Regions from separate parts of the Homo sapiens genome. Here region 1 is linked to region 2. Evidence: fine-mapped expression QTL. A gene starts in region 2. The other region holds a variant in brackets. All regions are shown on one strand. Distances are from middle to middle.

The links. PIP is the estimated chance that this variant, and not a neighbour inherited with it, causes the effect.
Region 1: its variant is the best candidate, but not a certain one, in a credible set for the expression of SCD5 in NK cells (Gilchrist 2021, PIP 0.55).

Annotation. Positions count from the first base shown.
Region 1 is chr4:83,226,796-83,242,847 of GRCh38, forward strand. No RefSeq gene overlaps it. Among named protein-coding and RNA genes, the nearest start is that of COQ2, 50 kb to the right of the region's middle. RefSeq lists an enhancer at 8,745-8,794. The variant C/CAAAA (reference allele first, on the strand shown) is at 6,103.
Region 2 is chr4:82,794,641-82,810,349 of GRCh38, forward strand. SCD5 (stearoyl-CoA desaturase 5) reads right to left here and starts at 4,156. Exons shown (of 5, transcript NM_001037582.3): 1 at 3,666-4,156. The coding sequence starts at 3,897. RefSeq lists enhancers at 2,382-2,903, 3,880-4,597, 4,598-5,314 and silencers at 3,712-3,761, 4,092-4,511.

The DNA of each region.
Region 1 (16,052 bases), 430 kb after region 2:
ACTTCTACAATGTACTTTCAAAAGGCTCAGCCAAATATAGACAGACAGACACATAGACATACACACACACACACACACACACACACACACACACACACACACACACACAGAGAGAGAGAGAGAGAGAGAGAGAGACAGAAAGAGAGAAAGAGAGAGACAGAGAGAGAGAAAGAGAAAGCAAATATGGTAAAATGTTAACAAACAACCATTGAACCTGAGCAAAGGATATATGGGTCTATTGTATTTTCTTTCAGCCTTTATTAGAATAAAAGGTTTGAAAGAAATAAATTCAATATCTAAAAGAGTTTTGTGATTCTACCAGGAAAGAAGGATATAGAAAAACTGCAAAATTCCATCTAACTCATGGTCTTCAGAGCTAGATAACAGACACTATATTAAAGACTTGCAGAAATATGGACGCTGACCAAGCAGACTGGATGGGGATGTGGTCCTCTGTAATGAGGCAAAAGTAAGAAATAGAGATGTAGACTATGTGGACTCTAAGGGCTACAGGACCACCCCTTGAGAATCACTCTAAGGAGGGCTCTGTATGTTCCATCAAGGTCACCAGCAACATTCAGTCATCCTCCTGGCAAGGAATTGTCCTGGAAAGGCATCTCTCAAATTGTTGGGTTGACACAATGGTCTCCCTGGTGAATGTTATGGGCTGAATTGTGTCTCCCCCTCCAAATTTATATGTTGGAGCTCAAACTCCGAGTATCTCAGAATGGGACTTATTAGGAGATAGGTCCTTTATTTATTTTTTATTTATTTTGAGACAGAGTCTTGCTCTGTTGACCAGGCTGGAGTGCAGTAGCACAATCTTGGCTCACTGCAACCTCCGCCTCCTGGGTTCAAGTGGTCCTCCCACCTCAGCCTCCCAAGTAGCTGGGACTACAGGTGCATGCCACCATGCCTGGCTATTTTTGTATTTTTAGTAGTAGATATGGGGTTTTACTATGTTGGCCAGGCTGGTCTTGAACTTCTAACCTCAGGTGATCTGCCCACCTCAGCCTCCCAAAGTGCTGAAATTTCAGGTGTGAGCCATCATGCCTGGCCTGGAGATAGGGCCTTTAAAGAGGTGACTGAATTAAAATTAGGCCATTAATGTGGGTCCTAATCCAATCTGACTGGTGTCCTTATAATAAGAAGAAATTTGGGGTGGGGCTGGTGACTCATGTCTGTAATCCCAACACTTTGGGAGGCTGAGGTAGGAGGATTGCTTGAGGGCAGGAGTTTGAGACCTGCCTGGGCAACATATCGAGACCCCCATCTCTATAAAAAATACACAAATTAGCCGGGCATGGTAGTGTACACCTGAGGAACCTGAGCGGGAAGAATTGCTTGAGGCCCGGAGGTTGAGGCTGCAGTGAGCCATGATTGCACCACTGCATTCCAGCCTGGGCAGCAGAGCAAGGCCCCAACTCAAAAAAATAAAAATTAAAAAAAATGAAAAATTTTTAAAAAGAGGAAATTTGGACAGAAAAATAGACACTAAGGATGTATATACACAGAAGAAAGACCACCTGGGGACACAGTGAGAAGGCTGGTCTCTGCAGGCCAAGAAGAGAGGCCTCAGAAGAAACCAAACCTACTGACTCCTTGGACTTTCCAGCCTCCAGAACTATGAGAAAATAAATTTCTGTTGCTTAAGCCACCCAGTTTGTGGTATTTAGTCATAGCAGTTCTTGCAAACTAATATGGTGGGTAATCATATTCCAACCTTGCGAAGATTTAGATTTAGGAGTAGAAATGTTTAAGAGGATATTATCTACAGTATTCATATTTTTGTATTAATGTGTACATTACTTACTGTAAGTAGTTGCAATGTTTAAGAGAATTTGGTCTGTTGAAACTAGAGATCAGTCTTGTGTTTCCTAAACACCAAAGGGAGTGACTTACATTCTAAGTCAGATTGTTACTAAGATCTTTTAAGAACTTAAAAATCACCATATTTATGTGTTTGATCTACTAGATTTGTATGCATTATTTAGGTTCCCAGGAAAGTTTTGACATTAAATTGAATAATTATTGATATTAAGAAAATAAATAATGTTAAATTTATAAATGCACTTTAAGAGGTTTTAAGGAGTTTATCTAATAGCATTTGTTAATGGAACCAAACCATATTTAGGCCCTTCAAGTGCTTTTAAAATTTGCTATATTTCTGAAAGAACAACAAGAATTCTAAGTTGAACTTAAATCTTAAGGTCAATGAAGTTTTTTTTTTTTGAGATGGAGTCTCGCTCGCTCTGTCACCCAGGCTGGGGTGCAGTGGGGTAATCTTGGCTCACTGCAACCTCCGCCTCCGAGGTTCAACCAATTCTCCTGCCTCAGCTTCCTGAGTAGCTGGGATTACAGGCGTGCACCACCATGCCCAGCTAATTTTTGTATTTTTAGTAGAGATGGGGTTTCACCATGTTGGCCAAGCTGGTCTCGAACTCCTGACCTTGTGATCCGCCCGCCTTGGCCTCCCAAAGTACTGGAATTACAGGCATGAGCCACCATGCCTGGCGGTAAGCGAAGTTTTTAAGTTGTAACTTTAGTAAATTAAATATTAATTTTTAAAGCTAAGTAACCTCTGAATAACCTTTTTTGATGCATAAAAGCCAACCTCAAGGGCATCAAAAGAGTCATCTACGTTTATATTTGAACTCTGTAACTTCTGAATAATGTGCAAAGCATGTCCTCTGGGATCCGAGGGACCAGGTGTAATGGGGTTAAGTTGAATTCAAAGCTTGAACACGTAGCCTTCTTGTTTTCTGTAACTATTCTCTTCTTGTCCAGAAGGCCCCGTTTCCTCTGATGGCGAGATAGAGTGATGAAGTGAAGGTAGATCACCAAACATAAACTTTCCAAGTAAAGGTAGCCAGAGTCTACTTTGGGGTTAACCTAATCTCTTTTGGGGAAATGCTCAGCGTTTTAGGCATTTTCTTCTCTCCTCTTCCCTTAGCCAAGATGGCCTTGGGGAGAGGGAAAGTTTATGCACTCACGTGGCATTGGTGGTGTTGTGGCTGGTTCACAGTGGGCTTTTGTTTGGCCCAGTGGGCACTTGCTGGGCTCTTGTTGCAGTGTTTTGTCCCACTGAAACCAGGTCATTGGTCTCTGATGTCATCGCCTCCTCTTGACCTCCAGTGGCATTGTTGCATTGCCTCGGAGCTCTGCAGGCTGACTAGGCCTTTTGGACTTTCCAGTTTTATCCAAAGCACACAGGAGGCCCCTACAAAAGAACACTCCCCAGGAACCTTTGTCTCAGGAAATCTTTCCAGCGTCTGCCTCTGAACTACTCTCTGTCCTGTCCTCTACTCCAGACTTTTCCCTTGTGATTAAGTTCTTGTCTCCTTGGACTAGGTCCTTTGTATCAGACAGAAAGCTGCCCTTATGTGGGTGGGGGCATAAGTCTCTCTTTGGTTCCACCCTATAACCCTGGGCCAGCCCTTCTTATTCTCAAGCAGAGTCCTGGATCCTGAGACCCTAGTCTGAACCTGTATCCCATCCCCATAATTTGAGTAGGTGAAGCAAAAATGAATCTGTACCCCATCCCCATAATTTGAGTAGGTGAAGCAAAAATGATCAAATCTGGCCAGGCATGGTGGCTCATCCCTGTTGTTCCAGCACTTTGGGGGGCTGAGGCGGGAGAACTGCTTGAGCCCAGGAGTCTGAGACCAGCCTAGGCAACATAGTGAGACCTTGTTTCCACAAACAAACAAACAACCCAATCTGTGAATGCCAAGATTGCTTAAGAATTAACAAATAGCATTTGAAAAAGATGTAAGAATTGTTAGGAACATAAAAGTTATAGGATACTAATTCCTTTAAAATAAAAATGCAAAGTTTCTTCCTAATTAACTTTTTTCTAACACTTAGGTTTGAGATAATTAGAAGAAAAGTTTACATATAGATTAGCGTCACTATTAGCCAAATAGTGCCTTTATAAAAATCACAGAGAGGCCTTTTTCTCTGGTGGTGGGGTGTGGCATAGAGTCCTAAGCAGGACTCACAGCTTGGCAAGGCAAGAGGAGCACAGACTGGATTTTGGTCCCTACTCACCCGTCAGGTGGTTGCTTTTTGGTAATAAACATCCTGCCCAATCATACGAAGTGGCCTGATATAGATGATATTTATTAACTACATGACCTTGGGCAAACATCTCAGTCCTTAGAACTTTAGATGCCTCATATAACAAGTGAGAGGGGCTGACCTCTGAGGTCCTTTGTATCTACAAATACTATGCTCCACGGCATCAGTAATTTTTTTTTTCTTTTTTTTAACTAAATGAGAGTCTTCACAGAAAGTAGAGGAAGTACCAAATGCTGGCCACCGGAAGGAACCAGTCTGAAAAGTAGAAGTGACAGAAACCCATGGGCAAAAGTGGTCAGGTTATTCTAGAGTTCATGATAGGGAGAGTTGGACATCATTAGATATATATCCGAGACTTTGGTAAGACACATCTAAAAATTTTTCCTAAATAATAAGATTCCCTGGACAGAGACTCCCAAAGGGAAGATGACAAGTGTTTGGGAGAAGTGCTGCAAAATGAAATCTCTATCTTCCAAACAGGATGATGTGGAACAGAAAAAAAGGGGGAGAGTTATTTAAAGAGAGACACACTTGGCCAGGCGTATTGGTTCAGGGCACTTTGGGAGGCCGACACAGGTGGATCACTTGAGGCCAGGAGTTCAAGACCAGTCTGGCCAATATGGTGAAACCCCATCTCTACAAAAACTAAAAAAAAAATAGCTGGATGCTAATGCTCTGAGATGACAGATTTTTGGAACTGTGGATGTAAAGCCCATAGACCTTAACATTAGTGTGTCCAGTCCCATGACATTTCATTAGCTTATGGCTTCTGCTCCAGAGACTCCCACCATTTCCCCATTGATAAGGGAGAGGAAGGAGGAAGTAAGAGATTATTTAAAAACAGTTGTGAAACTACCAAGGTCTGTGGTTGAGAGTTGGTTTTCTAACCAACCTTTGTCTAGTCTAGTCTAACCTTTGACTACAGACATCATATAAGGGACACGGTTGCCTCAGATGCAGAAGATATCAGGAAGGGCTGATTTGTTCCACACTATTTGACCACACTGATTGCAACAGGATGTGGACATGTTTTGCTATGAGTGTGTCCTAAAACATTGGAAAGAAACCCCACATCCTGTCACCCTCCCTGAGGGCAAGGACACTTAGAGTGGAGAAATCTGAGGTTTAACCTGTGCTGGGGATGATGACTGATACAACAAAGGATATAGGACCTCACCTAATGAATTTCAAAGATTGCTGATGTAAGATGCACCAAGAACAAATGTTGGTGTCCTGGTAGTAGAGCAGGGGACCCCTTGTGAGACCTGTCTTTGATCTTGGGAACACAAATCTTACAACATATTTATGACTGTGAAGGCAAAAGAAATCTTCAACGATGAGGTCTGGAAATTCTGAATATTCTATGCAAAGTATTAGAATTTCACAAGAGAGGACTTTGCTCAGAAGAGAAAAATGAACAGGCACCAAGTGGTAATTCACAGAAGTGTCATTCCCATGCTCTTAACTCTCAAGTGTGTTTTGAGATCAGGAAACATGGAGTCCTTATTCTCACTGTGTCCCCTGTTTGAAGACTGATTAATTAAGATGTCATTCATGACATGGTGAGCCATCTTGAGATATTTGAATATCCTGCCACCATGGGAACCCAGACCTACCTCTGGACTAATTATTGGGAGGGGATTGTGGGAAAGAATAATGACTGGGAAATAGAAATCTTTAAGATGCTCTTGAGCAGAACAAATTTCTCCTCCAATAAAGATGTCCATGTGTTTGTATTTGGCATGGATAATACCATGTATTCTGTAACCCCAATTCTTTAGTATTAGCTCTTTGTGAAAACCTTCTTAGAAACAAGGTGATTTCACTAGATTGTGTTTGGGGGCTATAATTTTATGATCCTATGAAAGATTGTCCCCTACTTTGCCACTTCTGCCAATAAGACCTCTATGTCCTGTCTGCTCTCTTGTTCCCCCAAATAAAGCTTGGATTTCTGTACCATTAACTATCTGCCCAGCATACAAACCTTTAAGTAAGAAAGAAAGCTTCCTCTTAACCTTCATC[C/CAAAA]AAAAAAAAACAAAAACACACACAAACAAAAGAAAATCTGAACTAGGAATAGAGAGCTTTGGGGCTTCTTAAGTACAATGACTAATAAAATATAAACATACTTGCTGTCTCCAGGGGGTTTATAATTAAAATCATAATGTATATTGACATTGTTTATCAGGGTAAAGACTATACTAATTGGCAGGAATAGAATACTCTTTTCTTTTTTTCAAAAGTATAAGTACTGAAAAATTTGACCAATCTCTGTGTTCTACTTACTACTTCTAATGAAGACCTGACAATTCTACATTAATTTAACAGTAACTTTAAGCATTGGATATGTTGATTTGTAATTATCAGGAGAGACTGAGATCAAGCATTTATGTTGGTATATACATTACTAAAAATGATACAAAAATAGGGCTTTAATAAAATGAAGAAACTTTTTTTTATTTATATGCACCTAACAGAAACTGAGATCAGTATGTGCAACCTATGTCTCTGCCAAATTTATCCTCCTTCCAGCCCTACCTTGGAGAGGGGTAATCATCTAAAATTAAACTATTTGCAGACAATTTTTCTTGGAAATGTAATGTTAACAGAGGCAATTATTTTTCTTTAGGCTATAGAAAAACAAATTTTTATTTATTTATTTTTTATTTTAAAAAATAATGGAGTGGCAGGGTCTTGCTGTGTTGCCCAGGGTGGGCTTGAATTCCTGGGCTCAAGTGATCCTCCCACTTTGGTCTCTCAAAGTGCTGAGATTACAGGCATTACTGGCCTAGAAAAACAAATTCTGAATAAGTATGATAAGACAAATTCCTTGCCAGCAACTCAATTTTAGAAAATATAGTTTTTAATCTCAGGTAGCTTGGGATGGCAGAAACAAACTGTCTTACTGTTTATTCTTGAAATATACACTAAGAAACCTATATTCATAAGAAGAACTCTTTTAAAAGGGATAACATTTCATAAAAACTTTATTATTGACTTACATTTAACATATGAGCTGTAGTATTCTTCTAGAATTTTATATTCGTTTTTATTTTCTTGAGTTTTTTTGTTTTTGTTTTTGTTTTGTTTTGTTTTAGTTTTTGGTTTTTGGTTTGTTTGTTTTTTTGTTTTTTTTGAGACAGGGTCTCACTCACTCTGTCACCCAGGCTGGAGTGCAGTGGCATGATCTCGGCTCACTGTACCCTCGACCTCCTGGGCACAAGCAATACTCACTCAGCCTCTTGAGTAGCTGGGACTACAGGCACATGCCCCCATTCCTGGCTAATTTTCGTATTTTTAGTAAAGATAGGATTTTGCCATGTTGCCCAGGCTGGTCTCAAATTTCTGAGCTCAAACAGTCCTCCTGCCTTGGCCTCCCAAAATGCTGGGATTCCAGGCATAAGCCACCATGCCCAGCCTATTTTTTATTTTCTTGAATATTAAAGGCATTCCATGACTATTGAAGTCAACTAGTTTAAGTCTAATGAAGACCTGATTAAAGTTAAATATTTACCAAAATAAAAACAATTATTATTACCAAAGTAACACCAATCTTTAAAAATCATTCCAAAAAATTAAAGTATCCTGCAGGGACTATATTCAGCATGAGAGATGAAGTAGGGAATGTCAGGACTCTGAGCCTAAGCTAAGCCATCATATCCCTAGTGACCTGCATGTATACATCCAGATGGCCGGTTCCTGCCTTAACTGGTGATATTCCGCCACAAAAGAAGTGAAAATGGCCTGTTCCTGCCTTAACTGATGACATTACCTTGTGAAATTCCTTCTCCTGGCTCATCCTGGCTCAAAAGCTCCCCCTCTGAGCACCTTGTGACCCCCCACCCCTGCCCACCAGAGAAAAACCCCCCTTTTTCCTTTACCTACCCAAATCTTATAAAACGGCCCCACCCCTATCTCCCTTCCCTGACTCTCTTTTCGGACTCAGCCCACCTGCACCCAGGTGAAATAAACAGCCTTGTTGCTCACACAAAGCCTGTTTGGTGGTCTCTTCACATGGACGTGCGTGAAAGGGAATTTGTCACAGAACATTCAGCAGACAAACTTAAAGAGGGAATTTTAAACTAGCTTTCAGAACCTAGGCTCAGAGGCAGTACTCAAGTGAGGTCCTGCTGCAGATGACAACTGCAAAAGAAAATGAACATTGATTTTCTCCAAGTTAGACTCATTTATTTAGCTGTTACTCATAAAGTAGAAGCCAGGTAAGCAGTAGTGTTGACTCATACATAATTTGCAAAAGAGTTGATAAACTCGGACAACAGCAGTGGGACTGCTTTATAGTTTCAAAAGCCTCTTAACATCTTCTCTGTTTTGAGTGCATCATCTTCTCTAAGATGAATTATCTTCAGACCAAATTATATAAGTCAATCTGCAATGGAACAAGCTGGAGGAGATTTAGATTCACTATCTAGAGAAAAGTGTTCATTTGTTTAAAAGAAATACTTTAAACTGAGGGAATTCATCACCACTAGACCAGTCCTACAAGAAATGTTTGAGAGTCCTTCATCTAGAAGTGAAAGTGTCAGGCCTCTGAGCCCAAGCTAAGCCATCATATGCCCTGTGACCTGCACATATACATCCAGATGGCCGGAAGCAACTGAAGATCCACAAAAGTGAAAATGGCCTGTTCCTGCCTTAACTGATGACATTCCACCATTGCGATTTGTTCCTGCCCCACCTTAACTGAACTATTAACCTTGTGAAATTCCTCCTCCTGGCTCAGAACCTCCCCCACTGAGCACCTTGTGACCCCCGCCCCTGCCCATAAGAGAAAAACCCCCTTTGACTGTAATTTTCCACTACCCACCCAAATCCTGTAAAACAGCCCCACCCCATCTCCCTTTGCTGACTCTCTTTTCGGACTCAGCCCGCCTGTACCCAGGTGAAATAAACAGCCTTGTTGTTCACACAAAGCCTGTTTGGTGGTCTCTTCACATGGACACACATGACAGAAAGGATGATGTCTACCATCAAGAAAACACATAAGACTGTAAAACTCACTGGCATAGCAGATACACAAATGAGAAAGAGAAAGGAATCAAATGTTACCACTACAGAAAACCACCAAACCGCAATGATAAATAATGAAAGAGACAAAAGATCAATGAAACAAAAAGTTGGTTCTTTGCAAAGAAAAACAAAATTGATAAACTGCTAGCTAGAATAACCAAGAAGAGATAAGATCCAAATAAACATAATCAGAAATGAAAAAGGAGACATGACAACAGACACCAGAAATGCAAAAGGTCATCAGCGAGAATTATGAACAACTATATGCTCAAAAACTAGGAAACCTAGAGGGAATTGATTAAATACCAGGAAACATACTACCTTCTAAGATTAAACCAGGAAGAAACAGAAAACCTCAACAGACCAATAATGAGATTACATCATAATAAAAACTCTCCCCACAAAGAAAGGCCCAGAACTGGATCACTTTATTGCTGAATTCTATCAAGCTTATAAAGAACTAACACTAATTCTTCTCAAATCATTCCAAAAAATTAAAGAGGAGGGAAATCTTTCTAACTCATTCTGTAAGGCCAGCATTACCTGATGCTAAAACCAGACAAGGACACACAAAAAAAGAAAACTATGAGAGAAAAATATCTCTCAGGAACATAGATGTAAAAATCCTCATCAAAATACTAGCAAACTAAATCTAACAACCATCAAAAATATAATACACCATGATCAAGTGGGATTTATCCCAGGAATGCAAAAAATGGTTCCACATATGCAAATCAATAAATGTGATACATTAACCAAAGGAAGGACAAAAACCATATGATCATCTCAATAAACACAGAAAAAGCATTTGATAAAATTTAACATCCTTCATGATAAAACGTCTCAACAAGTTAGGCGTAAAAGAAACATACCTCAAAATAACAAAAGCCATATATGACAAACCCACAGCTAACATCATACCACCTGGGGAAAAGCTAAAAGCCTTTCCTCTAAGAACTGGAATAAGACAATGATGCTCACCTTTACTATTCTTATTCAACATAGTGCTGGAAGTCCTAGCCTGATCGATTAGGAAAGAGGAAGAAATAAGGACATAATCCAAGTTGGAAAAGAAGTGAAAGTGTCTCTCTTTACAGATGACATGATCTTATACTTAGAAAAACCTAAAGACTACCAAAAAAGTCTTACAAATGATAAGTAAATCCAGTAAAGTTGAAGGATACAAAAACCAATATACAAAAATTGGTAGTTTCTATATAACCAGGATGAACTAATTAAAAAGAAATCAAGAAAGCAATCCCGCATTTCCACCCACTTCCCCACCCAGTGCCACTCTGGCTACCCTGCACTCGCTCTGAGCTCCAGGCTTCTGCTAAGTTAGCAACACCATGGTCTCCCTTTAGCTGCTCTCATGATTACCTACCCTGGCATCATCAGCCACAATAGTTCAACATGTATAAGATTTGGGAGATTGCAGACAGGCTTGCCTGGAGTTGGAGGGAAAGATGGTAAGTAGGACGCAGGGTAACACTGATGACTTGTTCATTGGTGGAAATGCCTCTGCTGAAGGCCCTTAGGGCAAAGGTGCCTCCCAAAGTGCTGGGATTACAGGTGTGAGCTACCGTGCCCGGCCAGGTCTAAATATTTGTAACGAACTGTTAAATAAAATATGTTCTACCCTCACATCTTGACAAATACACTTTTATAATAACCTGGAAGGGCAGGTTCCTATTTAGAATTCTCAGACTTCTTGGGGTCTCCAGATTATGGAGACAGCTGGCTCCCTGGCTGCCCATCCCTGGTCTGAGGGCATTTCCTCTTTTATTTCTACCTATGCCCCATCCTACACTACAAAGGGCTTTGTGGACACATGTGTGGACACCTGATGCTGCATAGCTAAGCTCTAACCACACCCACTTCATAAAATGTGTGTCCCCTGGGCATCCTTAGCCATTAGGGTTGTGTACTCCAGCTGTGCAGTCTGCCCTTAGGAGGACTTAATCAGGAAAGAGAATGTACTAGCCCTGTAAATAGGCTCCAAGTGGTTTGGGCAGATAATTCTGCAGTCTAAGGCACCCAGACGTAGATGAATAGTATTCCATTGTATAGATCACTTTGGGTAATATGGACGTTTTAACAACTTTAATCCTTCCAGTCCATGAGCATGAGCTATCTTTCCATTTATTTGTGTCTTCTATTTTTCTAATTATTTTTTAAATAGTTTTCAGTGTACTGATTTTTGTGTGTTGATTTTGGATCCTACAACTTTACTGTATTTGTTTATCTTAACAGTTTTTTGGTGGAGTCTCTGGGGTTTTCTATATATAAGGACACGTTATTGGCAAACAGGTGTAATTTAACTTCTCCCTTTCCTATTTGGGGAATGTCTTTTATTTCTTTCTCTTGCCTAATTGCTGTAGCTAGGATTTCCAATACTATGTTGAATAGAGGTGGCAAGAATGGACATCTCTGCGTTGTTCTGATCTTAGAAGAAAGGCTTTCCATTTTCACTGTAGTGTATAATATTAGCTGTGAACAAAATCTGCATTTTTAAACACCTGTTAGATTCTTACTGGGAGATGTTGAAGGCCTCTAAAAGTAAGAGGTAGGGTAGGGCTTTGTGTTGCTGTTCCCCCCAGACTCACTAAATGTTTGCATGTTACCTTGGTATCCAGCCCTAGATGGAATTCTGCTACCGCTGTAATCATTAGCAAGCAGGCGTGCTCTTCTTACAAGCTCAGCTCAGTCCCTTAGGCACTGTATCGGATGAGATAAGGAAAAGCTGCTGTAATAATAATACAGTGGTTTAAAGCAACAGTCCAAGGTGAATGTTCCAAGGTGGCAGGTGGTCTGCTTCATGAGCCACTCAGGGGCTCAGGTTCCTTCCAACGTGATTCTGCACTACTCTCTGGGCCTTTTGTTGTCTGCATAGCAAAGTTCTAGCCAACCAAATGGCAAGAAGGGAACAAGAACTCAGAATAGGCATATTCATGTTCTTAAGGTGTAGGCCCAGAAATCTAGGTATACATTCTTCTACTCACATGCCATCAGGTGAAACTTAGCCACATGAATACAGCTATCTGTTAGGTGAGCTGGATTGGGTGGTGTAGCCAAGCACCTAAGAAGAAGAGGAGAATGGACTATTTGGTAGAAAACTGGTTGTCTCCACCATTGGCACACTGCCAAGTATCTTGCAGGAAAGAATTAATCAAGGCAGATGCAATAATATTCTAGAGCCAAGTTAAGCTCACTTACTATTCAGAATAGGTAGCAGAATCTTCAGGTCCAAATCAGAGCCTGAGCCACAAAGACCACTCTGAAAGATATAGATAGGCTGCTGGGCTCATAAATTTTATGCACTTCTATACATATAAGGACACAGATTCTTCTACAGTATTGCTAATTAATCCAAATATTTTATTTTATTTTTATTTATTTATTTATTTTGAAACGGAGTCTCGCTCTATCGCCCAGGCTGGAGTGCAGTGGCGTGGTCTCAGCTCGTTGCAACCTCTGCCTCCTGGGTTCACGCCATTCTCCTGTCTCAGCCTCCCGAGTAGCTGGGACTACAGGCGCCTGCCACCATGCTGGCTAATTTTTTGTATTTTTAGTAGAGATGGGGTTTCATCGTGTTAGCCAGGATGGTCTCGATCTCCTGACCCCGTGATCTGCCTGCCTCAGCCTCCCAAAGTGCTGGGATTACAAGCGTGAGCCACCGCACCCGGCCTCACACATTTTATTTTTTAAATTTAAGTTTATTTTATTTTCTTAGAGATGGGGTCTTGCTATGTTGCCCAGGCAGGATTCAAACTTCTGGGCTTGGCTGGCCATGGTGGTTCATTCCTATAATCCCAGTGTTTTGGGAGGCCAAGGCACGAGGATCTCTTGAGGCCAGGAGTTTGAGACCAGCCTGTACAACATAGCAAGACACCTTCTCTACAAAACAAAAACAAATCAAAAACAGACAAAAACCTCCTGTGCTTAAGGAATCCTCCCACCTCAGACACCTGAGAAGGATCACACACACATGCCACTGTGCCTGGCTAATCCACATATTTTAAACATCGCACATTTTGCCAACTGAAAACTATTTCTATCATTTTAAAAGTATATTAACAACTAGTACATTGAGATAGCAATAGTCAAACCACTTGTAACAGGTCCTCTGGAATGTGGAGACCTGAGAAAAACATTTCAAACCTATCCTGGAGAGTATATTCCTGATTAGGGCACTTCAAATGCTAAATTCCTATTTCTAGATTAAAAGTAACAAACACGCATATATCACATTGTCCAGGCCCTTGATGCATATTGAAAACATTCACACCACACACATACACTCACATACACATGCACACACGCAAACACGTGTGTGCACATACACACACATGCACACAGGAAATACAGAAAACTATGCACCAAAATAGAGATGATTATTATCACGTAGGGTCTATTTTGTGCAGGTATCAACATATAAATATTCCCAGAGGAATTTCATAATTCAGGATTTCGTGAAGATGACAAAAGAAGAATGACTGCATCTATTCTGAACTTTACCCAGTTTTGGAGTCCTGATGTCAGTCACTACTTCTTACTTTCTAAGGCACTGATGGTAACAATTAACTTCTGTGGCCAAAGGACTATTTCCAGGATGGCCTGGATCCTCTTTTTGCCATCCCACACTGCTCTCACACCACACTGTCTGAGATGTCTACTTCCTGCATCTGGGCCCTTATTATAAATGAAAGTAGTTCTTTGCTTTGGTCCTGGCTCAAAATATAGCCCTCAACTACTGAGTCTTTAGCAATTCCTTTGCATCTGATTGCAGATGCAATTGAAAATTGCAACATAACTGCAATTGCCTTGCCTGTGAAAAGGCAATATAACTGACGGTTGAAAGCGAAGATTCTTTCAGTTCCCTCAACTGAATAATGAGTTCGCAGATGTAAAGTGCTTAGGACAGCACCTGGCATGTAGTAAGTAGCACTCTGTGGGTACCGGCTGTTATCATTTCTCTATTATCTGTTTCTCCTGACAGACCTGTAGATAGTGGAACTTTGAATCTTCTTCACTTTATTTTATTGTTTTAATTAATTAATTAATTAATTAATTTTTTTTTAAAGACAGAGTCTTACTCTGTTGTCCTGGTTGGAGTATAGTTAAGCAATCATAGCTCACTGTAACCTCAAACAACTGAGCTCAAGCAATCTTCCTGCTTCAGCCTCCCAAGTAGCTAGGACTACAGGCATGCATCACCTCACCCAGCGAATTTTTAAATTTTTGTAGAAATGAGGTCTTGCTATGTTGTCCAGGTTGGTCTTGAAACCCTGACTGCAACGGATCATCCTGCCTTGGCCTCCCAAAGCTCTGGCATTACAGGTGTGAGCCACTGTGCCTGGCTTCCACTTTATTTTAAGAAGGAAACCACAGGTAAATATTCTTACACTTTTATCACTCTTGACACTACCCTTCCACTAGGTAACTGCAGGAACAGGGTCAGATGACTGCTGGGGTTGTTTTGAAACTTGACATGATTAAGCCTGTGATGCCAGGATAAAAAAAAATTACTTTTCTCTTGCCTTTTATCTGTTGTCTGTCTTTTAGACATTTAACTATCAGTCTTCCTACATAAAGGAATAAATGGGGTAAAAAAAAAAAAAAAAAAAGAGTTTTTCCCATTCCAAGCTGGCCAAATAGGAACAGCTCTGGCCTGCAGCTCACAGTGTGATTGATGCAGAAGACGGGTGATTTCTGCATTTCCAACTGAGCCTCTGCTGGTGATACCCAGGGGAACAGGGTCTGGAGTGGACCTCCAGCAAACTCCAACAGACCTGCAGCTGAGGGACCTGACTGTTAGAAGGAAAACTAACAAACAGAAAGGAATGGCATCAACATCAACAAAAAGGACATCCACACCAAAACCCTATCTGTAGGTCACCAACTCCAAAGACCAAAGGTAGATAAAACCACAAAGATGGGGAGAAACCAGAGCAGAAAAGCTGAAAATTCTAAAAACCAGAGCATCTCTTCTCCTCCAAAGGATTGCAGCTCCTCGCCAACAACGGAACAAAGCGGGACAGTGAATCACTTTGACGAGTTGACAGAAGTAGGCTTCAGAAGGTCAGTAATAACAAACTTCTCCGAGCTAAGGGAGGATGTTTGAACTCATTGCAAGGAAGCTAAAAACCTTGAAAAAAGATTAGACAAATGGCTAACTAGAATAAACAGTGTAGAGAAGAACTTAAATGACCTGATGGAGCTGAAAACCATGGCATGAGAACTACGTGACACATGAACAATCTTCAGTAGTCAATTCAATCAAGTGGAAGAAAGAGTATCAGTGATTGAAGTTCAAATTAATGAAATAAAGTGAGAGGAGAAGTTTAGAGAAAAAAGAGTAAAAAGAAATGAACAAAGCCTCCAAGAAATATGGGACTATGTGAAAAGACCAAATCTACGTTTGATTGGTGTACCTGAAAGTGACAGGGAGAATGGAACCAAGTTGGAAAACACTCTTCAGGATATTATCCAGGAGAACTTCCCCAACCTAGCAAGGCAGGCCAACATTCAAATTCAGGAAATACAGACAACACCACAAACATACTCCTTGAGAAGAGCAACCCCAAGACACAAAATTGTCAGATTCACCAAAGTTGAAATGAAGGAAAAACTGTTAAGGGCAGTCAGAGAGAAAGGTCGGGTTACCCACAAAGGGAAGCCCATCACATTAACAGCGGATCTCTCGGCAGAAACTCTACAAGCCAGAAGAGAGTGGGGGCCAATATTCAACATTCTTAAAGAAAAGAATTTTCAACCCAGGATTTCATATCCAGCCAAACTAAGCTTCATAAGTGAAGGAGAAATAAAATCCTTTACAGAGAAGCAAATGCTGAGATATTTTGTAACCACCAGGCCTGCCTTACAAGAGCTCCTGAAGGAAGCACTAAACATGGAAAGGAACAACCGGTACCAGCCACTGCAAAAACATG
Region 2 (15,709 bases):
ATTCTGTCCATTTTTTTTTTTTTTTTTGAGACGGAGTCTCACTCTGTCGCCTAGGCTGGAGTGCAGTGGCGCAATCTCGGCTCCCTGCAAGCTCCACCTCCCAGGTTCACGCCATTCTCCTGCCTCAGCCTCCCGAGTAGCTGGGACTACAGGTGCCCACCACCACGCCCGGCTAATTTTTGTATTTTTTTTAGTAGAGATGGGGTTTCACCGTGTTAGCGAGGATGGTCTCGATCTCCTGACCTTGTGATCAGCCCGCCTCGGCCTCCCAAACTGCTGGGATTATAGGCGTGAGCCACCATGCCCGGCCGCTTTCTGTCCTTGAAAGTCATGAACGCATTGCTGAGGACCTGGGGGCACCAAGAGCATTCTGTCCTGACAGCCTGCCCACTCATAAAACGAAAAGGATAAAAAGGGAAAACAACATGCTCTGGCCCCAAGGAGAACTAACAACTTGATGAACTAACAATTTGATGGCTCTTTCACGGATGACATTTTACCACCACACAAATTACTCTCTGCACACTGCACATCCAACACATCCCCTGCTGGGTGCACTGCATAGATGCCTCTTGTTTCCAGCACAACCTCATCTGGTGTGGAGGGTGGCAAGCAATGGACAGGCTAAGCCTATTTCCTCTACAAGTCAGGTCCTTGAAGTGCATGAGCAGCCCACTGGGGCATGAACTTGGCCCTAATGCTACACATAACCAGTAGGGAGGTGGTGAAAAAGGGCCTTCAGTGGGGGGAAATTTGTGGATCAAGGCACCAGGGCTTTCACTGAAAATAACCCTGAGTCAGTGGTCTGCCTCGTCCCTCTGCTTACTATGTAGCCTAGCCATCAGCACAGCTGATCTTAGCTGGTCTCTGATTGTCCCTCATTTCTTCCCTCAAAAGCTATTCATGAGACTGGGTACAGTGGCTCACGCCTGTAATCCCAGTACTTTGGGAGGACTGCTTGAGCCCAGGAATTCAAGACCGGCCTGGGCAACATGGTGAGACCCCCATCTCTACAAAAAAATGAAAAAGAAAATAGCCAGGTGTGGTGGTGCACACCTGTAGTCCCAGCTACTTGGGAGGCTGCGGTGGGAGCATTGCTTGAGCCCAGGAGACTGAGACTGCAGTGAGCTATGATCGTGCCACTGCACTCCAGCAAGACCCTGTCTCACAAAAAAAAAAAAAAAAAAAAAAAAAAGCAGCAGAGGCAGTAGCTATTCATCAGATAAGACCCATTGTTTGGACTGTTTCTAAGTCACAATTTTGGACCTTAAAACTCTAATATCTACCATTGTCTGCTATTTTTTTTTTTAGGGAGGCAATGAAGGTGGGGAGAGAATTAAGACTTACGGGCCGGGCGCAGTGGCTCACGCCTGTAATTCCAGCAGTTTAGGAGGCTGAGGTGGGTGGATCACGAGGTCAGGAGATTGAGACCATCCTGGCTAACACGGTGAAACCCCATCTCTACTAAAAATACAAAAAATTAGCCGGGCGTGGTGGCGGGCACCTGTAATCCCAACTACTTGGGAGGCTGAAGCAGGAGAATGGTGTGAACCCAGGAGGCGGAGCTTGCGGTGAGCCGAGATCGCACCACTGCACTCCAGCCTGGGCGACAGAGCGAGACTCTGTCTCAAAAAAAAAAAAAAGACTTAGGAAATAGCAGATGAAGCACAGGCAGAATTTATCCAGGAAGGTATGGAATGGGGTTTGGGACATGAGTCACAAAGGGGAAACCAGATTCCTTCAGTGTGTTAACTTCTCTAAGGAAGCTAGAGGACACTGGGGCCTGGGAGGTGTCCTCTAAGCCAAGATCTTTCAGAACAAAGGTTCTATCTTCACCACAGAGAGCGGTCCGGAAAGGGCAGAGGTGACCTGGCAAACTTGGAGAGAGGGGCCTTGTCCTTGTGGCTCCTGGTCCAGTGCCAGGGTCTTGGGGCTCAGAGGCTGTAAGAAGTGGAGCCAGTGAGCCCTAGGCATGTAAGATAATATTTTAAGTGCTCACTTTTCCCTGAGCACTCTCTGAACACCACAGCTATTAAAGATAAGCCTCAATCCCCTAGAGGTCACCAGGCTCTGAGGACCAAGCCCAGCCCTGCCTCTGGAAGCAGGGGGGAGAGAGGAGCTTGTTGGAGAACTCTGGGCAATAAGGGCTTTGGTTGGCAGTGTCGGAGTGTGTTGATGAAGCAACAGCTGAACATCATACAGTCTACAGTCAGTTGGAGAATTAAACCAACACATAAAGGTGATGGTGAAAAGGACACAGAAATGAGGAGGTGCACTGAGAGAAGGAAAGATGAAGCAGGAGATTTCCCAGAGCTTTGGGGAGACTTTAAAGGCTTTAGGGATCCCCAAAGATCCTACCTCTCTCACCATCCGTCAACTCTGCTATGCCCTCCCTGAGCCACACCCCCTAAGAGGTACCCACTTCTGGATGGGTTTACTTCCAAGAGCAGGGACTGCAGGATTTCAAGGGAAGGCTTGGAACCATAGTGGCCCCATTATCTACCTAGGCATTTGCAGCTGGCACCATGCCAAAAAAGCCCTGTAGAAAGAGGTCTTATTTTCTTCCTTCCTCTTCCCCTCTGGAAATAAAAGTAGGTTGTGTTTCTCCTGCCCGCCCCTAGAGATCAGGGAAACGGGAGCTGGAAGGGCATCTTGGATTACCTCGTCAAATTCTCACTCAGCATATCAATGCCTGTGCCTTTTGTCCTGGCTACTGCCGCTTCAGTAAAGGAGGCCAAAACCAGTTATTGCGGCCAGGGCGGCTGCGAAGTGGTTCAAAGATCAACGACTGGGGTCGTGTAGGGTGGGCACGCAGTCCCTGGGGCCCAGGGGAAGGGGAATGGTGGTCGGCGCCCGGGCTCCCTTCCCTACTGGCAGGAGTGGGGGTGCACGGAAGGAGGGTACCAGGAGAGCCACAGGTTCCCACTGGCCACATGGGAACAGGGTTTGGAGAAGGCTCTGCACAGCCACAGTCGGAGCTTCGTGCTAGGGTCAGACCGCTCTCGCCATGGGATCGGTTTGCTCACCGAGAAACTTCACCGAGAACTGCAAATGGGCATAGAAGATTGCGGAGGGGGCAGGGACAGGGGCCTTGGAGAGGCAAGAGGGGAACCGGTATCTTCCATCTGGTGCGCGTAAACCAAGACTCTATCCTGTGCCGGGTCTCTCCTCCCCGGTCCAACTCCCTTACTTGTCCTCATCTCTGTCCCCAAGGTCCGTGACCCGCGGAGGTGATGGGGGGGATAGGAGAGCCCCAGGGACCGCAGAGGTGACACAATCGCCCGCCCGTCCTCCCTCGCTGGGAGCCGATTCAGCCTGTGCCGAGCCTCTCCCTTCGCGCGCCTCTGCGCACAGCGGTGGCACCGCAGGACTCCGGGTCCCCCCCGGCTCTCCATCGGGAAGCCGGCAAATGCGCTTCCTCAGGCAGACCGCGGCGGGGTGGGGGCGGGGGGGGGGCGGAAGTTGAAATACTGGGACAGAAACACCTGCCCGTCCCAAGGGACGGAAAACTGGATGCCAAGGGGGCCGCGGCGCGCAGCGGGAGGCGAGGGGAGACCGGGGGTCGCTGCGCACCGCCCGCAGCCGAGGGGCGAGCGGCGACCTCGCGCGCCCCAGCGCGGCCTGGCCACGGAGGCCGGGGCGCAGGGGGCGCCGGCGGGACTTACCCCAGAGCAGAGTGAGTGGCTTGGCTTTGGGGATGAGCACCAGGGAGTACACGGCCCCCAAGTGGAGCAAGCTCATCAGGACGACATTCCTCCAGACGATGTTCTGCCGCTGCCCGCGCGCGCCTGGCCTCTCCGGGCCGCCGCCGCCCTCAGAGCTTTCGAGCCCGGCACGGATTTCTTCCTTGGCGTCGCAGAAAGGGATCTTCCCCGCGTCGGTGGCCGGGCCTGGCATGGCTGGGCGAGGTGGGCGCCCGCAGCAGCGGCAGGCAGGCAGGCGCTCTGCCCGAGCGGAGCTCGAGGGTGGGGGCGGGGGCTTCTGCCTTTTAGGGGGGAATTCTCCGCACGTCCAGTCCCCTCCTTCCAGCCCTTCTCCCGGGCTCCTGCGCTCTTCCCCAGGGTCTTAGCGTGGCCTAGGGATGCAGATCTTGGCGGCCGGCGTCTGTTGCTGGCGTATCCCCCATATGGCTGCCCGGGCTGAACTCGGCCGCGAGAAAGAGGAGGCGCGCGCGGGGCGGGAGGGGCGCGCGGCCGGGGAGGAGGAGCTGTGAAAATGGAACGGGGCCGGCGACGCTGGAGGGAGCGCTCCGAAGGAGCGCGGAAGAAAGCCCTGCTTAGCTACAGCCAATCAGGAGCGCCCGTGCGGCGCTTATAGACAAAGGCGCCCCCCTTTCGGCTTTTCGGGGCCGAACTGGGGAGCCCGCTGGGCGGGAGTTGGCCGCCTCCGCCCGGGGGCGGGTGGAAGGTGGCTCCCGGGGCAGGGAGCCTGCAGGGCGGCTCACAGCGCTTCTGCTCTTGTGTGTGTGTGACCCCCAAAATGCCTTTTATGGTATTTTTCCAGTCCCCCCCCCAAAAAAAAACTTCCCGAAACTGTCATCCCTTTGAGAAGCCTTTTATTTCTTCTCAAGCCTCAGGCCACCTGGGTTGGAGAATTTTAAATACTTGCTTGGAGTCGCGACCCTAGTTAAGGCCAGACCCACGATGAGAATCAGAAGTCCCTCAATCTGCCAGTTAGTAGGGCTCCTCGGGCCAGGGGAGGGTTGGAAGGCAGCTGCTCGTTCTTAATTAGGCAGCTGTGGATTACCCAGGCACACAGTAAGTGCTCAGTTGGTGCTTGTGAGGTGATGCACAGATGATTTGGGCCAGTTCGCTGCCCACCCTTTGCCCATCCGCCGCGCCACTCTGTTTATGGTCAATTCTAGCTAATCAGCGCACTTCTGCAACGCCTCCTTAGCTCTCAGTGAGGAACACTACCCTGAAATCAACACCATTGAGAATCGGGCTTTACAAAAAAATCACCCAGAATGTTCCAAGGAAAATTAACCTGTGAAAGATTTGTGTCTGCCCACTTCTCTCCTAGAGCTGATGGCTTAAGAGCTCTCCAGAGAGGACCCTAGTTGCACAGAAAATGGAGGGAGGATTGAGCTGGAAGTGTCTGAAGCAGGTGTGACCGCAATTGCGGGCAGGCAGCAGAAGTAAAAGGGCTCGGGACAGCATCTCTGAGTTCTAGTTTTAACTGGCTGGAACCCAGCCCAACTCTCTGGGCACGGATTTCCTTACCTGAGAAGCAGAACTAGTTTCTACTCTTCCTTCCAGCTTCCATATTCCATGAATGTGAGTTCGAAGGGGCGCCATTATATTGACCAAAACCAGCTGATTTTTAGATTAACCGTTGTTAGGAATCATTTCCAGGATTTCAAGAGAGGCAAAAAAATTTAAAAGACTGACTGCATGAAAGGGCCATGCATAAGCATCTTATTGTTAGCAGACCTGAGCCAGTCCTAGCAGCCAGACAAAACAATGCCTGATTTAAGCTAAAGCAAGGTATGTGGCACTTGTGGAATCTAGGCCACTGAGTCAGTGTTACTGTGTTGCTTCAGACGGAGCTGAAATTATAGAATTTGCCTGGAGACCAGATAAATGTCGGCCCTATATAATGACCAGTCAGACAGTGGAACATGAAGCTGGAGGGTGCGATTTTCATCTGTCTGTTCAACCTGGGCTATGTAATGAACCACGTTTTCTTCTCATGCTCCCTCTGCTCCCCATACCCAGCAGACCTTCCTACTCCCTGTGGCTCTCTAGTTCAGACTGTCCTTTCTCTCTGGGGTAGACTAGTTGCTCGGCCAAAAGCCTCTCTCCGGGTTATTGGAAAGGCTCAATGCTGTAAAGACCCTCATTCTAAACATTCAGTCATTTATTTGGCATTTATTGGGCATCTGCTATGTGCCAGGACCAGTGGGCACAGGGGATCCAAGGATGAATAAAGTCTGGTCCCGCCCCTAAAGGAGCTCCCATCTAGAAGCAAAGATGGAGCAAACAAATGTAACCTCTTGACTATGACCTTGGAAGGGCAGAAAGTTACAGTCCATTATCGGAAAAAAAAATTTAATTAGGTATCAAACTTACATACAAGGAGTCTAAGGGAAGCAAAAATAGTTCCTTATTGTCCCCCCTGAGAACCTTATTAGGTCAGCTGTTCTATCTTGAATCCATCTTTTGTTTGTTTGTTTGTTTTTGTTTTTGAGACGGAGTCTCGCTCTGTTGCCCAGGCTGGTGTGCAGAGGCCTGATCTCGGCTCACTGCAAGATCTGCCTCCCGGGTTCACGCCATTCTCCTGCCTCAGCCTCCCGAGTAGCTGGGACTACAGGTGCCCGCCACCACGCCCGGCTATTTTTTTTTTTTTTTTTTTTTTTGTATTTTTAGTAGAGACGGGGGTTTCACTGCGTTAGCCAGGATGGTCTCGATCTCCTGACCTTGTGATCCGCCAGCCTTGGCCTCCCAAAGTGGTGGGATTGCAGGCGTGAGCCACTGTGCCCGGCCCTTGAATCCATCTTGAATGAACATCTTTCTCTTTTCCCTCCTGTGGGTCAGACCAGGTATGACCAGTCATTTCAGCTGGCTGTCCTCATAATGGAGAAGATGTTTTTGTGTGTTGAGGGAGGAAAGAAGTGTTACTTAGGTTTGTCAGAGCCTGCCTATAAAAGGATTGTTGAAGAAAAATGGTCCTTCCAGGTCCAGCCTCAGAGTGAAACATCTACAAGATCCAAGATATATTCTTGCTGATAACGACGGTCCTCTTTAGCCAATTATGCCATAGGGGTCACTGCCTCTTTTCTCTGTCTTGCCAAAGACCCTAGTATATTTTCCTAGCTTCTAGTCAGGACCCCAGGAGTGGATAAGTATTCACCTGTCCCAGGATGGGGCAAATGGGACAGTAACCCTTATCCTGTCAAACACGTAATTACCAAAAATGTAATAAGAGCCATAATGGTGGTATACGCAAGATAATGTAGAGGTGCAAAGGAGGGAGTTGTTAATTCACACAGAAGCAGGGAGGAGGGGGAGTGATACCTGGGGAAGGATTTTTAAAAAATATTTAATTGTGGTAAAATACATGTAACATAAAATGTATGTAACAAAATTTACCACTGTAACCGTTTTTAAATGTACAGTTCAGTAGTGTTAACTATATATGCACATTACTGTGCAACCGATCTGCAGAACTTTATCATTTTGCAAAACTGAAACTTTATGCTCATTAAACTCCCCTTTCAATCTCCATCCAGATGCTGGCAACCACTGTGCTACTTTGTTTCAATTAGTTTGACTACTCTAGATACATCATATAAGTGAAATAATAGAGGATTTGTCTTTCTGTGACTGGCTTATTTCACTTAGAATGTTTTCAAAGCTCATCCAGGTTGTATGTGTTAGAATTCCCTTCCTTTTAAGACTGAATAATATTCTATTGTATGGATATGAATTTTGTTTATCCATTCATCTATCTAACAGTGGACATTTGGGTTGCGCCACCTTTTGGCTACTGGAAATAATGTTGCTGGGAACATGGGTGTACAAAGATCTCTTCAGGACCTGCTTTCAATTCTTTTCGGTATATATATGTATATCCAGAAGTGGTATTGCTGGATCTTATGGTAATTCTATGTTTAATTTTTTGAGGAACTGTCATACTGTTTTCCATAGTGGCTGCACCATTTCATATTTCCAACAACAGTGCCCAGCGGTTCCAATTTCTCCAAATCCCCACTGATACTTTTTCTGTTTTTTAGATAATAGCCATCCTAGTGGGTAAGGAGTGATATCTCATGGTAGTTTTTATTGCCCTCCCTTAATAATTAGTGATATTGAGCATCTTTTCAAGTGCTTGTTGGTCATTTGTATACCCTCTTTGGAGAAAGATCTATTCAAGTCCTCTATTTTTAAATAAGGTTTTTGTTGTTGTGGTTGTTGAGTTGTAGGAGTTCTTTACATATTCTGAATATTAACCTATCAGATATATGACTTGCAAATATTTTCTTCCATTCTGTAGGTTTCCTTTTTCACTCTGTTGATTGTGTTCTTTGATGCACTGACATTTTAAATTTTGATGTAGTCCAGTTTATCTATTTTTACTTATATTGTCTGTGCTTGTGCTTTTGGTGTCGTATCCAATAAATCATTGCCAAATCCAGTGTCATGAAGCTTTTCCTCTATATTTTCTTTTAAGAGTTTTATAGTTTTAGCTATAAAACTTACATTTAGGTCTTTAATATACTTCGAGTTAATTTTTGTGTATTGTAGAAGATAAATGCCCAGTTTCATTCTTTTATGTGTAGATATCCAGTCTTCCTAGCACCATTTGTTGAAGAAACTATCCTTTCCCCATTGAATGGTCTTGGCTCCCCTGTTGAAGATCAGTTGACCGTATATATGAGAGTTTTTTTTTTTTTTTCGGCTATTTCACTCCATTGGTCTGTATGTCTGTCTTTATGCCAGTACCACATTGTTTGAATTATTGTAGCTTTGAAATCAGGAAGTTTTGAAATCAGGAAGTTTGAGACCTCCAACTTTGTTCTCTTTTTTTTTTTTTTTTTTTCAAGATTGTTTTGGCTATTCAGGGCTTACTGAGATTCCATACCAGTTTTAGGATCTTTTTAGGTCTGCCAAAAATGATATTGAGATTTTGATAGGGATTGCAGTAAACCTGTATATAACTTTAATTAGTATTTTCATGTTAATGATATTAAGTCTTCCAATCCATGAACATGGCATGTCTTTTCACTTATTTATGTCTTCCTTAATTTCTCAGCAGCATTTTGTAGTTTTCAGTGTACAGTTATTTTGCCTCATTGGTTAAGTTTACTGGGTAAGGATTTTGAAAGATTGTTGTTTAATTAAAATATATCATGAGCCTCAAATTCAAGCCACATGTGTAATTGTAATGTAGCCACATTAAAAAGGTAGAAACAGAAAAAAACTTTAATAATATATTTTATTTAACTCAATGTATCCAAAATATTATCTTTTCAATGTAAAATCAGTATAAAATTATTGATACATTTTATACTTTTTTCATACTATGTCTCAAAATTCCATGTTTCCACTTAACAACACGACACACCTTAATTCAGATTAACGACAAGTGCTTGTAGCCACATATGGCTAATGGCTGTCATGTAAGACAGCACTGTTGAAGTATGAATAGTTCAAAGAAATGGTAGGGGATATTCCAGGCAGAGAAAAGTGCGTAAGTAAAGTTTTTGCACTTGGCATTCAGGGAGGTATATGGAATATCTGAAGTGAAAGTAGGGAAGCGTAGGAGATGAAGCTGAAATGCCATGCAGTGGGCAGCAGATGAGGGTACGTGGGTGTCTTGAGTGCCGTGCAGACAGAGCTATGAGGTAGGTGAGGGGAGCCACAGAAAGACTTTATGTAGCACAGTACTGGGATCAAGTTTGCACTGCAGAAAGACCACTCTGGAAGAGAGTGGGGAATGATTGTATTGGGGGTGCAGAGAGCTAAGATTGAAGGTGTGAAGATCAGTTAGGACACTATTTTAAGAATCTGTTGAGCAATGATGAGGGCCTGAATTAAGGCAAGGGCACAGATTCTGGAGAACAATAAATAGAGAAGATGGAATCAAGCCAGAGAAACTCAAATGGAAGAGTCAAAGAGATTTGATGCTGGATTAAACATAAAGAAGGAGGAAGAAAAATCTAGATTCTTTTTGGGTCTCTGAACTGGGTATTCAGGTGAAGGACAATGTCACTCACTGAAATACTAAGTTTGTGTTTATTTCCTCTCTTGTAAAGTGAGAATAATACCTACCTTATAGTATTCCTGTGACAACTAAAGTCAATATCCATAAAGTGATTAGAACAGTGCCTGGCACATAGTAAGGAATTAGTAAATATTATCACCATAATCATAATCATTTTTGAGATAGGAACTGAAGAAATAAATTAAAGAAGAAAATGAATTCCTGTTTTAGACATTCAAGTGAAACTTTGGGTGGATTTTTGAATATATAGGTGCCTGGAGCTTGGCAAAAAGTCTAGGCTGAAAATAACAATTTAGTCATGGTTCAATATAGTAAAATCCATGTCAGTAGAAACAGTTGGCCAGGAAAGGTAAGAAGAGAAAAGGGCTCAGGATAGAATCCTAGTGAAACACTATTTATGAACACAGCAAAGAAAAAGAAGCCAGTGGTGTGAACTGAGAAGGGAAAATGAGAGAAGTGGAAGAATCAGCAGAGTGTGGGAGAGCAGGATTCGCAATGTCGAAAATGTTATGGAAAGGCCAGGAAAGAAGGGAAATGAAGAGCACACTGTATACAAAGGTCATGGCTGACATTTGCTGAGGACTTTTCAACGAGTGATGGGAACAGACCTTGCACAGAGGTGACTTTAAGAACAAGAGGGAGGAGACAAGCATGGAACGCATATGTAAGTTAATTTTCCTAGATGCTTGGCAGTAAAGAGGAGAGGGATAGAGAAGCAAAGTTGAGTGTGTGCTTTCTAGGGCTGGATGGGATCAGGTGAGCAGATGGTTGGGCTAACTTAGAGCAGAGGGACAGCTTTTCATTGGAGACTGGAAGGAAATGAGGATGAAGGGAGCTTACAGAGTGGGCCAATAAAGTAAGGGAGGGTGCCATGATGGCCTGTTTGCTCTGAAGGGAAGATCAGGTGTCTGCTGGACAAGCAGAGTGGGAATTTGGTAAAGAGTTGGGAAAAAGTGATGAAGGCCTCCAAAAGCTGTTGAGAAAAATGAGAGAGGAAGCTGATCAAGAACATTTAAAAGGTTGCCTGGCCTAATTAAGGGCCCAACTAAGAATGGTTGCCACAAGCTTAAACTGGCTTAGTCTGCACAGTTGTGGTTACACAGCATCCCTCAGCAGTCTGATGGAATATCCATATTGAAGTTGTAGGGTGGGTTTGATGGGAGGACAAAGGATCCAGGTACTTGAGGAAATATGACTAGAAGGAAGCTAAGATGTTATAGACAGTGGAGGAATCAAGGGAACCAAGGTTTTGAAGAAATTGAAGAGAAAATCTGTTTATTAGGGAATGAAAATAAATGAAGTAATGGCCATTATGCCCCAAGAGTGGGATCTGGGACTTGAGACCTATGGTTGTGAAAGAGTTTCCAACGATAAGCTCCAAGGTGAGGCCACAGGATTATAGTGGAGGGTTGGCAGTTCCTGGAAATGAGGAAGATGAAGTATTATGGACAGGACCTCCAAAGGGGGTTGAAATCACAGGCTGCATCCAGATTTAGCTGGAGAAGATTGTGAGCTGGGTGCCCAAGGGGACTTCCTAAAGAAAGACAAGTAACAGCTTTCAAATGTCAATGAACAGTTAGAAGATTCTAAATACAAAACTAGCAGCTCTGAGATGTATGAGGACAAGACCATCACAGCCAGAATTCCTGGATTCTGGCCAGCAGTGCATACCTTGGAGTAGAAGTTGCTTCTGGTAGAGAGGATAGAAAGAAGACAGAAAGTATTATATGTTAATGCTACCTACAAAAACTGTGTGTGAGAGAGAAACATGATGAGGCATGTGGTCTGGTATGATCAGGAGGGCTTCGTGGAGGAGGTGGCAGCAAACAAGGCCCTGGAAGATAGGTGACTTTGCAGAGACTCCCACTTGGATAATAGCCTAAGAATAGGCTTAGATATGGGGGTGAGCCTAGCAAAACACCTAGCACTTAGATAAGGTTGTATTTTGGCCAGGCACAGTGGCTCACACCTGTAATCCCAGCACTTTGGAAGGCCAAGGTGGGTGGATCACTTGAGCCCAAGACTTTTAGATTAGCCCGGGCAACATGGCAAAATCCTGTCTCTACAAGAAATACAAAAAATTAGCTGGGTGTGGTGGCATGCACCTGTAATCCCAGCTACTTGGGAGGCTGAGGTGGGAGGATCACCTGAGCCTGGGAGGTCAAGGCTGCAGTGAGTCATGATTGTACCACTGCACTCCAGCCTGGGTGATAGAGCAAGAACCTGTGGAGAAAATGCAGGCTTTAGGGAGGGAGGAAAGAGCAAGAAAAGATCCATTCTTGAAGTTAAAAATTTACAATGATTCTCAGATCTATGCATTTCTCAAAAAAATGCAGATTTTGTCTACAGGACAAAATCACAATCTTGTGAAAATGACCTAGGTTTGGCAGTCTAAAACCTGGGTTTGCAGGTACATGGATTGGAAGAATCAATACTGTTAAAATGTCCATACTGGCCGGGCGCGGTGGCTCATGCCTGTAATCCCAGCACTTTGGGAGGCCGAGGCAGGTGGATCACGAGGTCAGGAGATTGAGACCATCCTGGCTAACACGGTGAAACCCCGTCTCTACTAAAAATACAAAAAATTAGCCAGGCGGGGTGGCAGGCGCCTGTAGTTCCAGCTACTCAGGAGGCTGAGGCAGGAGAATGGCTCAGGAACCCGGGAGGCGGAGCTTGCAGTGAGCCGAGATTGCGCCACTGCACTCCAGCCTGGGCGACAGAGCGAGACTCCGTCTCAAAAAAAAAAAAAAAAAAAAAAAAGTCCATACTACCCAAAGCAATCTACAGGTTCAATGCAATCCTCATCAAAATACCAATGACATTCTTCACAGAAATAGAAAAGACAGTCCTAAAAATGTACATGAAACCACAAAAGGCACAGAAAAGCCAAAGCTATCCTGAGCAAAAAGAATAAAACTGGAGGAATCACATTACTTGATTTACAGAGCCATAGTAACCAACACAGCATGACACTGGCATAAAAACAGACACATAGTCCAATGGAACAGAATAGAGAACCCAGAAACAAATCTATATATCTACAGTGAACTCATTTTCGACAAAGGTGCCAAAGGCATACATTAGAAAAAGGACAGTCTCTTCAGTAAATGGTGCTGGGAAAACTGGATATCCATATGCAGAAGAACAAAACTAGACCCCTATCTCTCACTATATAAAAAATCAAAATGGATTACAGACTTAAATCTAAGACTTTAGACTATCAAAGTACTACAAGAAAACATTGGGAGAAACTCTGCAGGACATTGGACTGGACAAAGACTTCTTTTTTTTTTTTTTTTTTTTGAGATGGAGTTTCACTCTTGTCACCCAGGCTGGAGTGCAATGGCACAATCTTGGCTTACTGTAACCTCTGCATCCTGGGTTCAAGCGATTCTCCTGCCTCAGCCTCCTGACTAGCTGGGATTACAGGTGTGCTCCACCACACCTGACTAATTTTGTATTTTTAGTAGGGTCCAGGGTTTCACCATGTTGACCAGGCTGGTCTCAAACTCCTGACCTCAGGTGATCTGCCCACCTTGGCCTCCCAAAGTGCTGGGATTACAGGCGTGAGCCACTGTACCCAGCCAGATTTCTTGAGTAATATCCCACAAGCACAGGCAACCAAAGCAAAAGTGGACAAATGGGATCACATCAAGTTAAAAAGCTTCTGCACAGCATAGGAAACAGCCAATAAAGTGAATATGGAACCCACAGAATGGGAGAAAATATTTGCAAACTACCCATCTGGCAAGTGATTAATAACCAAAATATATAAGAAGCTCAAACTCCACAGGAAAAAAATACTGATTTTAAAATGGGCAAAAGATCTGAACAGACATTTCTCAAAAGAAGACAAACAAATGACCAACAGGTATATGATACAATGCTGAACATTATCATCAGAGAAATGCAAATCAAACCTACAATGACATATTATTTCACCTCGGTTAAAATGGCTTTTATCCAAAAGACAGACAATAACAAATACTGGTAAGGATATGGAGAAAAGAGAACCCTCATACACTGTTGGTGGAAATGGAAATTATTAATAATATCATTGAGGACTCTGAGTAAAAGGTATAATTTCTCTATGATTTCTTATAACTGTATATGAATAAATAATTACTTCAAAATTAATAGTTTAATTAAAAATGTGAAGTGGTTGAAGCATTGCATTCAAGGTTTATTCACCCATTCATTCATAGAATATTCCAGAAATATTTATTGTATATATGTTTATAAGTATGCTTATATAATATAAATATATAAAATATAAAATATAAATATATTTATATGACCCAGCAATCTCACTGCTAGGTACATACCCAAAAGAAAGGAAATCAGTACATGGAAGAGGTATCTGTACTCCCATGTTTATTGCAGCACAATTTAGAAGCAACCTAAGTGTCCATCAACAGATGAATGGATAAAGAAAATGTGGTACATACACTCAATGGAGTACTAGTCAGCCATAAAAAAGAATGGGATCCTGTCCTTTGCAACAACATGAATGGAACTTGAGGTCATTATGTTAAATGAAATAAGCCAGGCACAGAAAGGCAACCTTTACATGTTGTCATGTATTTGTGGGAGCTAAAAATTAAAATGACTGAACTCATGGAGATAGAAAGTAGGACAATGGCTACCAGGGAAGGGAAGCATAGTTGGGAAAGATAGTGTGGCAGGGGAGAAAGGGGGATGGTTAATGGGTACAAAAATATAGTTAGATAGAATGAATAAAATATAGTATTTGGCCGGGCGCAGTGGCTCATGCCTGTAATCCCAGCACTTTGGGAGGCCAAGGCGGGTGGATCACCAGGTCAGGAGTTCAAGACCAGCCTGGCCAAGATGGTGAAACCCCATCTCTACTAAAAATACAAAAAAATTAGCCAGGCATGGAGGCGAGCAACTGTAATCCCAGCTACTCGGGAGGCTGAGGCAGAGAATTGCTTGAACCCAGGAGGCGGAGGTTGCAGTGAGCCAAGATCACACCACTACACTCCAGCCTGGCTGACAGAGCGAGACTCCGTCTCAAAAAAAAAAAAAAAAAAAAAATATATATATATATATATGTATAGTATTTGATTGCACAGCAAGGTGACTACAGTCAATAATAATTTATTGTACATTTAAAAATAACTAAAGGAGTATAACTGGATTGTTTGTAACACAAAGAACGATAAATGCTTGAGGTAATGGACACCCCATTTACCCCAATGTGATTATTATGCATTGCATGCCTGTATCAGAATATCTCATGTACCCCATAAACATGTATACCCACTATGTACCCACAAAAATTAAAAATTAACAATAAAAAAAAGACCTGGGTTGAAGTCTGGCCCTCCCACTCTGAATTGGCACATCCAAGTACTGTGTGATTTGGGGACAATGAGTCTCTTTCAGATCTTCAGTTTCATCCTATATATTATGGGAATTAAGACAGATCTATGCTGGTAATCCTCTCCAGGCAAAGTGCCAAATAATCTCAACATCAGTATTTTATGTGCAAAATGGAGATAATACCACACATTTCACAGGAATAGAACTTTGTAGAGTTTGGTACCTAAATTAGTGTGAACCACTTATTTTATTACTATTTTTTTAATCATTCTAGACAGATGGACTGAATGCAGTTGTAATAACCTGCCTGGCCAGAAAGCCAGGATGCTCCTGGGGGTCCCAGACTGTGAAGAGAGGCATAACTGGGTAGGCTACAGGGATTCAGACCTTGAAGGAATGAATTCTAGCAGGGCCAGGATTGGCGTGCTTTGAAGGGAACTGTGAAAAAAAATCATCTGCTTTGGTTTTTCAGAGGTAATCATTAAAGGCAACTCCTTTGGCACAAAAAAGGAATCAGCTCTGCGGCTCTTATGAATTTAAAGGCGAAGGAGGTTGCCTCTTGGCTAAGGGACATGAAGAACAGCTTCAAGTTTAAACAATCTTTGTGCTCACAGTGTGAGATAATCACTCACAGGCTTTA